Regions from separate parts of the Homo sapiens genome. Here region 1 is linked to region 2. Evidence: fine-mapped expression QTL. Tissue or cell type: whole blood. Region 2 holds a variant in brackets; the other region holds the start of a gene. All regions are shown on one strand. Distances are from middle to middle.

The links. PIP is the estimated chance that this variant, and not a neighbour inherited with it, causes the effect.
Region 1: ZFPM1 starts here. The variant in region 2 is fine-mapped to the expression of ZFPM1 in whole blood (TOPMed, PIP above 0.99).

The regions. Positions count from the first base shown.
Region 1 is chr16:88,451,002-88,455,156 of GRCh38, forward strand. ZFPM1 (zinc finger protein, FOG family member 1) reads left to right here and starts at 2,279. Exons shown (of 10, transcript NM_153813.3): 1 at 2,279-2,677. The coding sequence starts at 2,638. RefSeq lists silencers at 2,004-2,303, 2,314-2,403, 2,864-2,993, 3,214-3,283.
Region 2 is chr16:88,543,961-88,548,115 of GRCh38, forward strand. No RefSeq gene overlaps it. Among named protein-coding and RNA genes, the nearest start is that of ZFPM1-AS1, 15 kb to the left of the region's middle. The variant T/C (reference allele first, on the strand shown) is at 2,197.

The DNA.
Region 1 (4,155 bases), 93 kb before region 2:
AGGGACAGAGTGTAGAAGGAATGTGCTACAAAAGCAGCCCTGGCAGGGTTAGGGGACCTGTGACCGGTGCAGGGGCACAGGGCCCGAGCTGGGAAGGGCACCACACCGGGCTCAACATCCTGCCCTTGATGCCCTGGGGTTTTGGGGTTTGGGGGTTTTGATCAAGGGGGCTCCACATTTTCATATTTTCATTTTGCATGGGGCCTTGCAAGTGATGGAGGCAGGGCAGCAGGCTGTGGTCTGGACCTGCCGCCTGCCCCCTTCGCTGGCTTCCCTGGGCATGTCCCTCCATGTTTTCATCTATATATGGGCTCATAGAAATAAATCAGATCAGGCAAAGCAGCAGCCAAAATGATCCCCATCGTCTCCTCCTGCAGCCTAGACAGACATCAATCATGGATGATCATGGCTGTCTCCTGTTGACCCTCGGAATCCACCTCAACACAGATCTCCGCCCGTTCCAGCAGCGCCAGCCTGGGTGCCACTTGCTGTGCGTGGAGCTTCAGACCCAGCCCAGGTGCCAGCCCATGGCCACCTCCTCCAGGAACTCCCCTAACTCACAGGTCCACATACTCTAAAGTGGACTTCTTTGGGGAAGGAGGCGAGGCCTGGTGGGAAACCCAGACAGGTAGGTGCTCCATCCAGTTGACAAGCACTGGGTGGGGGCGGGAGGGTGGGGGGGAGGTCCTAGGTTGAGTGAACCAATCAGACATGGGCCCCACCCCCTCCAGAGAGCAGCTGTGGGAAGGCTGTGCCCACTGGACCCTGGCAGAGAGCAGGAAGGGCTGGAGGACCCGTATGCCCCTGGGCAGCTCTCTTGGCCTCCTGGTCTCAGTGTTCCTGTCTGTCCATGGCAGTGGGGAGGGACGGCGCATATCCAGTGTTGTACCCCTGCCTCTCCTACCCACCCGCCACTCTCCTGTACCAGGCTCTGAGGGTAAGCCCCCACTTCTCCCCTTCCTTGGAGCCAGGGAATAGGTCACAGAAGTTGGCACGAGATGGGGTCTTAGGAGCTCCCAGCAGGCTGGCGGGTGGTGTGACAGTCCTGCTGTGCGATGATCTCATCATCAGGTGGGAGGGGTCCTTCCTGTCTGCCCCTGGGCCCACTGACGCCCGTTTCTTATGAGTACGGGGGATGGGGGAGCAGGTAGCAAGTGTAGACCGAGAACATTAAAAGGAGATGATACAACTCAGCTGGGAGTGGGGGACAGCCCCCCAATGCGTGACCTTGAGCAAGTCCCCGAGCCTCCGTGAAGTGGGGCTCTTGAACACACCCCAGAGGGCAACAGTTCTCCATTTCCAGGCCTGAGCTGACAGCACCGCGCCCACAAACCTCGCTGACCTCTGACTGCTCCGAGAGGGGGCTGTGGCCCGGGCGCTGTGGGCAACTCCTTCGTGGGTCTCCTGCGGGGCGCCCTGGAGAGGCTCGGTGAGGAAAGAGGCCCCAAGTGGCAACGCCCAGGGCTGCCGGCTCCCGCGCCCCCTCCTCGATTTCCAGCCTGGTCTGAGCTCACAGGGGAAGACCCGAGATCCTGCTCTCAGTTGGCGGACCCCACCGCAGTCTGGGACGGAAGCCCCCTCCCTGGCCCGAATCCGCTCCACACCCCAAGTCTGGCCCAAGAGAAACGTGGGCGTCAAGGCCTCGGGCTTCCTGAGCCGGTTGTCACTGCCCCCACCGCGCACGTGGAGCGTGCGGCAGAGCCCAGGGGTCTAGGGAGGGACCAAGGGCTGGGGGCGGAGTTACAGTGCGGGGGCGGAGCCTCGGCGTCTCAGGACCCAACCAGGTCGGGTCAGGTTTGGAGGCGGAGCTGGCGCCGAGAGGCGGGGCGCAGGATGCGGTGCCGCGGGGCAGCAGAACAGAACCGAATAGGTCTCAGACTCCCAGCGCGGCCTGGGGACATGACCTCCGGGCCAAAGAGGAGTGGGGGAGGCTAGAGGTCTCCCCGGGGCGCGGGCGGGGCCGAACCAGGAAGGGGCGGGGCATCGAGCGGGGCGGGGACAGTGCCTTGAAGGCCCAGACGGACAGGGGCGGGGCCGCAGCGCTGGGGTCGGAGCCAGCGCCGTAAAGAGCGAGGCGGGCGGGGGCGCGGTCGCGGCTCTGGGGGCGGAGCCAGAGCAACGAAGAGCCGGGCTGGCGGGGGCGTGGCCGCGGCGCTGGGGGCGGAGCCGGAGAGGTGCAGGGCCCGGCAGGAGGCACGGGGCGGGGCCGGAGCGCCGGGGGCGGGGCGGGAGGTGCGGCGGCCGACGACGCTCAGGCCCGGCCCCGCCCCGTGCCTCCAGCCCGCCAGGAGCGCCCTCGCAGTGGCCGCCTGCTCCGCCGCTCGCCGCCCGCGGGTTCCATTGAGAAAAGCCGAGCGGCCGCGGCGGCGGCGGCGAGTGCGCGGGAGCGGAGGAGCCGGCACCCGCCCGTCGGGCAGTCCGCGCGCCCGCAACGCAGGACCGTGGCCTCTCGGGCCTCCGCGGCAGCTCCAGCGGCTCCGGGGCTGGGCGCGCGGGCTGGGGGCGCGGGCCGGGGCGGCCGCGGAGACCGGGGGCCGGGGGCATGAGCGGCCCCGCGGCCCCGCCGCGCCCCCGCCGCCCGCCGCCGCCCGCCCGGGGCTAGAGGCGGCCGCCGGGAGGGCGCGCGGCGCCGGAGACATGTCCAGGCGGAAACAGAGCAACCCCCGGCAGATCAAGCGTGAGTCAAACTTTGCCCGCGGTCCCCTCCGCGCGCCCGACCCCCGCCGGAGCCCAGCCGCCAGCGCCGCCCCCGCCCGTCCCCGCTCTGCCCTGGGCGCCGGCGACCTTCACCCCGCGCCGCGCCCCCCGCGCTGTGCCAAGCGCGCCGTAATCTAATCTCCGCCGGCGGCCTGGGCCCCCGCGTCTCGGCTTGGGCACCGGGGGGTTCAGCCCAGGAGGGGGCCGCCCGGAGGCCGGGAGGAGGGTGTTTGGGGGCGCGGCCCGGGCAGCTCGGCCCCTCGCGGCCTGCCCCTCCCCCGCATCTGCGAGATGGTGCGGCGATAGGGCGGCCCCGATCTGGGCTCAGATAAAGTTTAAAATATTACATTCTGCAAGTCCCGTCCTGATAAGATCGTTCTGTCGGGACGGGCTGAAATTGTGATCTTATCTCGCGCGGTTGACTCTCCCAGGCTTTGTATCTAGAAGCGAAGAGAGAGACCTGGGAGGCAGAGGGGACACCCGGGGCCGCGGAGATGCCTGGCCAAGTGGCAGGCACCGGCCCGCGCCCACCCCCACCGGTGCCGTCGCAGAGCCGCAGGACAGGGGAGGGGGTAGCGCGCAGCTGCCGCAGCCTAGGCACTTGGCTCCAGCCCCCCAGACACCCCCACCCCGTGCCCTAGCGCTGAAGTCCTGAACCCAGGCCCCGCCAGCCTGGTGACACCTCCTGGACCCTGCAAGTGTCCCAGCCAAGGCGGCATGGGCAACAAATGGTGCCCTCGGATGCCCGCGGGCACCCCCTGGCATCCCAATGGGCTGCTCTGAGTCAGAGAAGGGCCTCCCAGGACGCAGCCCCGGGCCGGGGTCGCCCCTGCACGCCACTAAGTTTCTCGCTGGTCCGGCTCCCTGCCCGGTCAGAGGCTGCTGCCCCGCCGCCACATTGCCAGTGCCCCCGCGATGAGAACTAAGCTGTCGGGGCCACTGTCTGGCCTGGGCCTCTGGGCTGTGCCAGGAGGGAGCAAGAGCACAGGAAGCTACCCTCCCCACCCTATGCCAATAATAACTTTGCGCCTCACAGTTAGGGCCCAGACGCAGGTCTTCCTCCCCGGGGCGCCTCCCCGGAGCCTGACGGGCAGGTCGTCTGAGCCCTGCCAGGAGGCCACGACGGAAACCCGCCCGCTGCCCAGCCGTAGGCGCCCGGGCACTACCTCCTTTGTCCACACGACCACTGCCACCAGGACCCCTTGTGCGGGGCCTGTGGGAGCTTCCCTACTCAGGAGGTCTCCCGAGGCGGGGGTCACAGGCATGAACCGGTTCCCGTAACCCAACTCCCTCAGCGCAAACGGGACCTGTTTTCCGAAAGTCGCCTTCTATCGTGTCAACTCAAGTATTAAAAGCCACCCACAGGTCCCGATCCGCGCTTGTGCTCTGGTTTCTTTTTCCTTCCTTCCCTGAGCGCCTATGTTCGGTTCTGGGGTGTGTGTGTGTGTGTGTGTGTGT
Region 2 (4,155 bases):
CGGGTGTGGTGGCTCACACCTGTAATCCCAGCACTTTGGGAGGCCAAGGCAGACAGATCACAAGGTCAGGAGTTCGAGACCAGCCTGGCCAATACGTGAAACTCCGTCTCTACTAAAAATACAAAAATCAGTCAGGCATGGTGGCTGGCGCCTGTAGTACCAGCTGCTCGGGAGGCTGAGGTAGGAGAGTCACTTGAACCTGGGAGGCAGAGGTTGCAATGAGCCAAGAAGCCAAGATCGCACCACTGCACTCCAGCCTGGACGCCAGAGCAAGACTCCGTCTCAAAAAAAAAAAAAAAAAGAAAAAAAAAAGCACTACCAAAGATCATCATTGTTGGCTGCACTTGTGGTTTCAGGCAGGTAGCCTTGGCGAGTTTGTTCATACCTCATGATCATTGGAGCTGAGATTTGCAAACTGCTCAGTGCAGCCCTGACTCCCTGTGAGTCAAAAGCCACTTCTCACCTCACCAGGAGCTGTGGTGTTTGTTGGGTGTCAATGTACGACTTTAGTTGTTGTTGTTTTAAAGTTCTACTGTGTGTTTTTTTAAAGGACCAGTGAAATTTGAAAATAGCCAAGGAAAAGAAAACTGGTTCCCACAATCACAGACACCACCATGGAACACACCAAGGCAATTTCTTCATTATAAAAATTTTATTATGAAGAGACAGGGGCCGGACGGGGTGGCTCACGCCTGTAATCCCAGTACTTTGGGAGGCCAAGATGGGTGGATCAAGAGGTCAGGAGATTGAGACCATCCTGGCTAACACGGTGAAACACCATCTCTACTAAAAAAATACAAAAAATTAGCCAGGCGTGGTGGTGGGCGCCTGTAGTCCCAGCTATTCGGGAGGCTGAGGCAGGAGAATGGCGTGAACCCGGGAAGCGGAGATTGTGGTGAGCGGAGATCGCGCCACTGACTCCAGCCTGGGTGACAGAGCGAGACTCTGTCTCAAAAATAAATAAATAAATAGATAAAATAAGAGACAGGGTCTCACTATATTGCCCAGGCTGGTCTGTGAACCGCTGTGCTCGATTGGTCCTCCTGCCTCAGCCTCCCAAAGTGCTTGGATCACAGGCATGAGTCGCCGCACCTGGCCAACACGGGGGCAGTTTTTGATGCAATGTCTGCAGTGGCTGGAGGGAGCTGGGCTCCTGCTCACATCATGCTTTGTGCTTCGGTTGCTCCCACTTCAGGGCTGCACTCACCCTCCCTCAGCAAACCTCAGACTTGGAAGAGGCTACCATGAGGGTGTGTGGCTTGGTTTAGACCTTGTTGACAAAGAAGTCAGTTAATCCCAAGTTCAGTAACTAATAAACATCAGCACATGGTAACACACAGTCTAACTACTAGTTTTTTTGTTTTTTTTTGTTTTTGGGTTTTTTTTTGAGACGGAGTCTTGCTCTGTCGCCCAGGCTGGAGTGCAGTGGCTCCATCTTGGCTCACTGCAACCTCCGCCTCCCAGGTTCAAGCGATTCTCCAGCCTCAGCCTCCTGAGTAGCTGGGATTATGGGCCTGGGCCACCACGTCTGGCTCTGTGAGTCAGCACAGGGAATCTTACCATGGACGCTGCCGGGAGATGCAGGGCCACTCAGGTGTGCACGTACACTGGATTCAAATACAGGCAGCAGACATAGACAACGATGCCGGGAGAGGGGCGGCTGGCAGAAGAATGGCCCCAAAGATGCCTGTGTTTTCATCCCCAGGGGGAGCCTGTGAAGGCGCAGCCTCATGCAGCAGAGGGGAGTTAAGGCTGCAGGGGAAGTTGAGGTTGCTCATCAGCTGACCCAAGATACAGAGATTACCCTGGATCATCCTGGTGGGCACAGCATAATCACAAAGTTCTTATCAGTGGAAGAGGGGTCAGGAAGAATACCAGAGAGGTGGGATGGGAGGACTCAATGGGCTTTGAAGATGGGGGGGGTGCCATGAGCCAAGGAACGGGGAGGCTTCCAGAATAAGCAGCTGGTTCTCCTCAGGAGCTCCCAGCTGGGGCCAGCCCTGCTCACGCCTGGACCTCAGCCAGTGAGACCCGCTTCAGTGAGCCCCACTGGCTCCTGAAGGCTGCTGCACCTGACTCAGGATAGCTGGGACTTGGAGTAGGGTGGGACACAGGGCACAGAGGGCCGGCCAGGGCTGCAAAAAGATCCCGGTGGCACCTCATGAGCTGGGGACAGGGGTCCTGTGCCCGACCATC[T/C]TGCGTCTCTTTTTGTTTCTACCTTTGCAATAATAATAATACAAGTAAAGTCAGATAGAAGTTCAGGAAGCATGCACATGGGATGCTCCAGTCTCCAGCCAGCACGAGGAAATCATCACTCTCCAATCAAAGGCAGAGGGCGAACAATGGCGCCATCACGGTGCACTGCAGCCTCAACCTCCTGAGCTCAAGGGGTCCTCCCACCTCAGCCTCCTAGGTGCTGAGGACCACAGGCGTGCAGCACCATTCCCAGCTATTTTTTTTTACTTTTTGTAGAGATGGCATCTCACTATGTTGCCCAGTCTGGTATCCACCTCCTTACTTAAGCAATCTTCCTTCCTCAGCCTCTCAAAGTGCTGGGATTACAGGCATAAGCCACCGCACCCAGGCCCGAGGTTGAGCTTTTGAGTGGCTGTCACCCTACTTTCCACAACAGTCACACCGATTGCTGTTCCCATCAGCAGTGCATGCCAGGCCTCCACATCCCACCAACACATGCTGCAGCACTGTCTGACTTCAGCATCTGAATGCATGAGAAGCGGAGTCTCACTGGGGCTGTAATCTGCATTCTCCAGTGACCGGCAGTGCCACGCAGCATCCCCCTGCTCACTGGCCACTGTATGTCTATGGAGAAACATCTGTCCAGACCCATCGCCCATCTCTGCACCTTTCTGCTCATTTCTAAGGTGAGAAAACAGAGGGTGGACAAGGTGAGGGAAGAGAGGGTGGAGAAGGCGAGGGGACAGAGGGTGGGGAAGGTGAGGGGACAGAGGGTGGAGAAGGTGAGGGGACAGAGGGTGGAGAAGGTGAGGGGACAGAGGGTGGGGAAGGTGAGGGGACAGAGGGTGGAGAAGGTGAGGGGACAGAGGGTGGGGAAGGTGAGGGGACAGAGGGTGGAGAAGGTGAGGGGACAGAGGGTGGAGAAGGTGAGGGGACAGAGGGTGGGGAAGGCGAGGGGACAGAGGGTGGGGAAGGCGAGGGGACAGAGGGTGGGGAAGGCGAGGGGACAGAGGGTGGGGAAGGCGAGGGGACAGAGGGTGGGGAAGGCGAGGGGACAGAGGGTGGGGAAGGCGAGGGGACAGAGGGTGGGGAAGGCGAGGGGACAGAGGGTGGGGAAGGCGAGGGGACAGAGGGTGGGGAAGGCGAGGGGACAGAGGGTGGGGAAGGCGAGGAGAGGGTGGGGAAGGCGAGGGGACAGAGGGTGGGGAAGGCGAGGGGACAGAGGGTGGGGAAGGCGAGGGGACAGAGGGTGGGGAAGGTGACCGGACAGAGGGTGGGGAAGGTGCGGGGACAGAGGGTGGGGAAGGTGCGGGGACAGAGGGTGGGGAAGGTGAGGAGACAGAGGGTGGGGAAGGTGCGGGGACAGAGGGTGGGGAAGGTGACTGGACAGAGGGTGGGGAAGGTGACGGGACAGAGGGTGGGGAAGGCGAGGGGACAGAGGGTGGGGAAGGTGACCGGACAGAGGGTGGGGAAGGCGAGGGGACAGAGGGTGGGGAAGGCGAGGGGACAGAGGGTGGGGAAGGCGAGGGGACAGAGGGTGGGGAAGGCGAGGGGACAGAGGGTGGGGAAGGCGAGGGGACAGAGGGTGGGGAAGGCGAGGGGACAGAGGGTGGGGAAGGCGAGGGGACAGAGGGTGGGGAAGGCGACGGGACAGAGGGTGGGGAAGGCGACGGGACAGAGGGTGGGGAAGGTGAGGGGACAGAGGGTGGGGAAGGTGAGGGAACAGAGGGTGACAACCATCCAAGTGTGAAACTCATGGGTATGTGCTTGGGCTGCAGACACCCTGGCCTCACCCCACCTTGGCCCTTTTGATCCATGAGACTGCACAGTTCCCCTCCTGGACCCTTGGTTCCCCCCACACCCAGGAGGCATAGAACAGGCAGGACATCCTGTGGCCAGAAAGATGATCGGGGGTCTCCAGGGCACGGAGCCCCCACCCACACACTACAGTAGGGATTG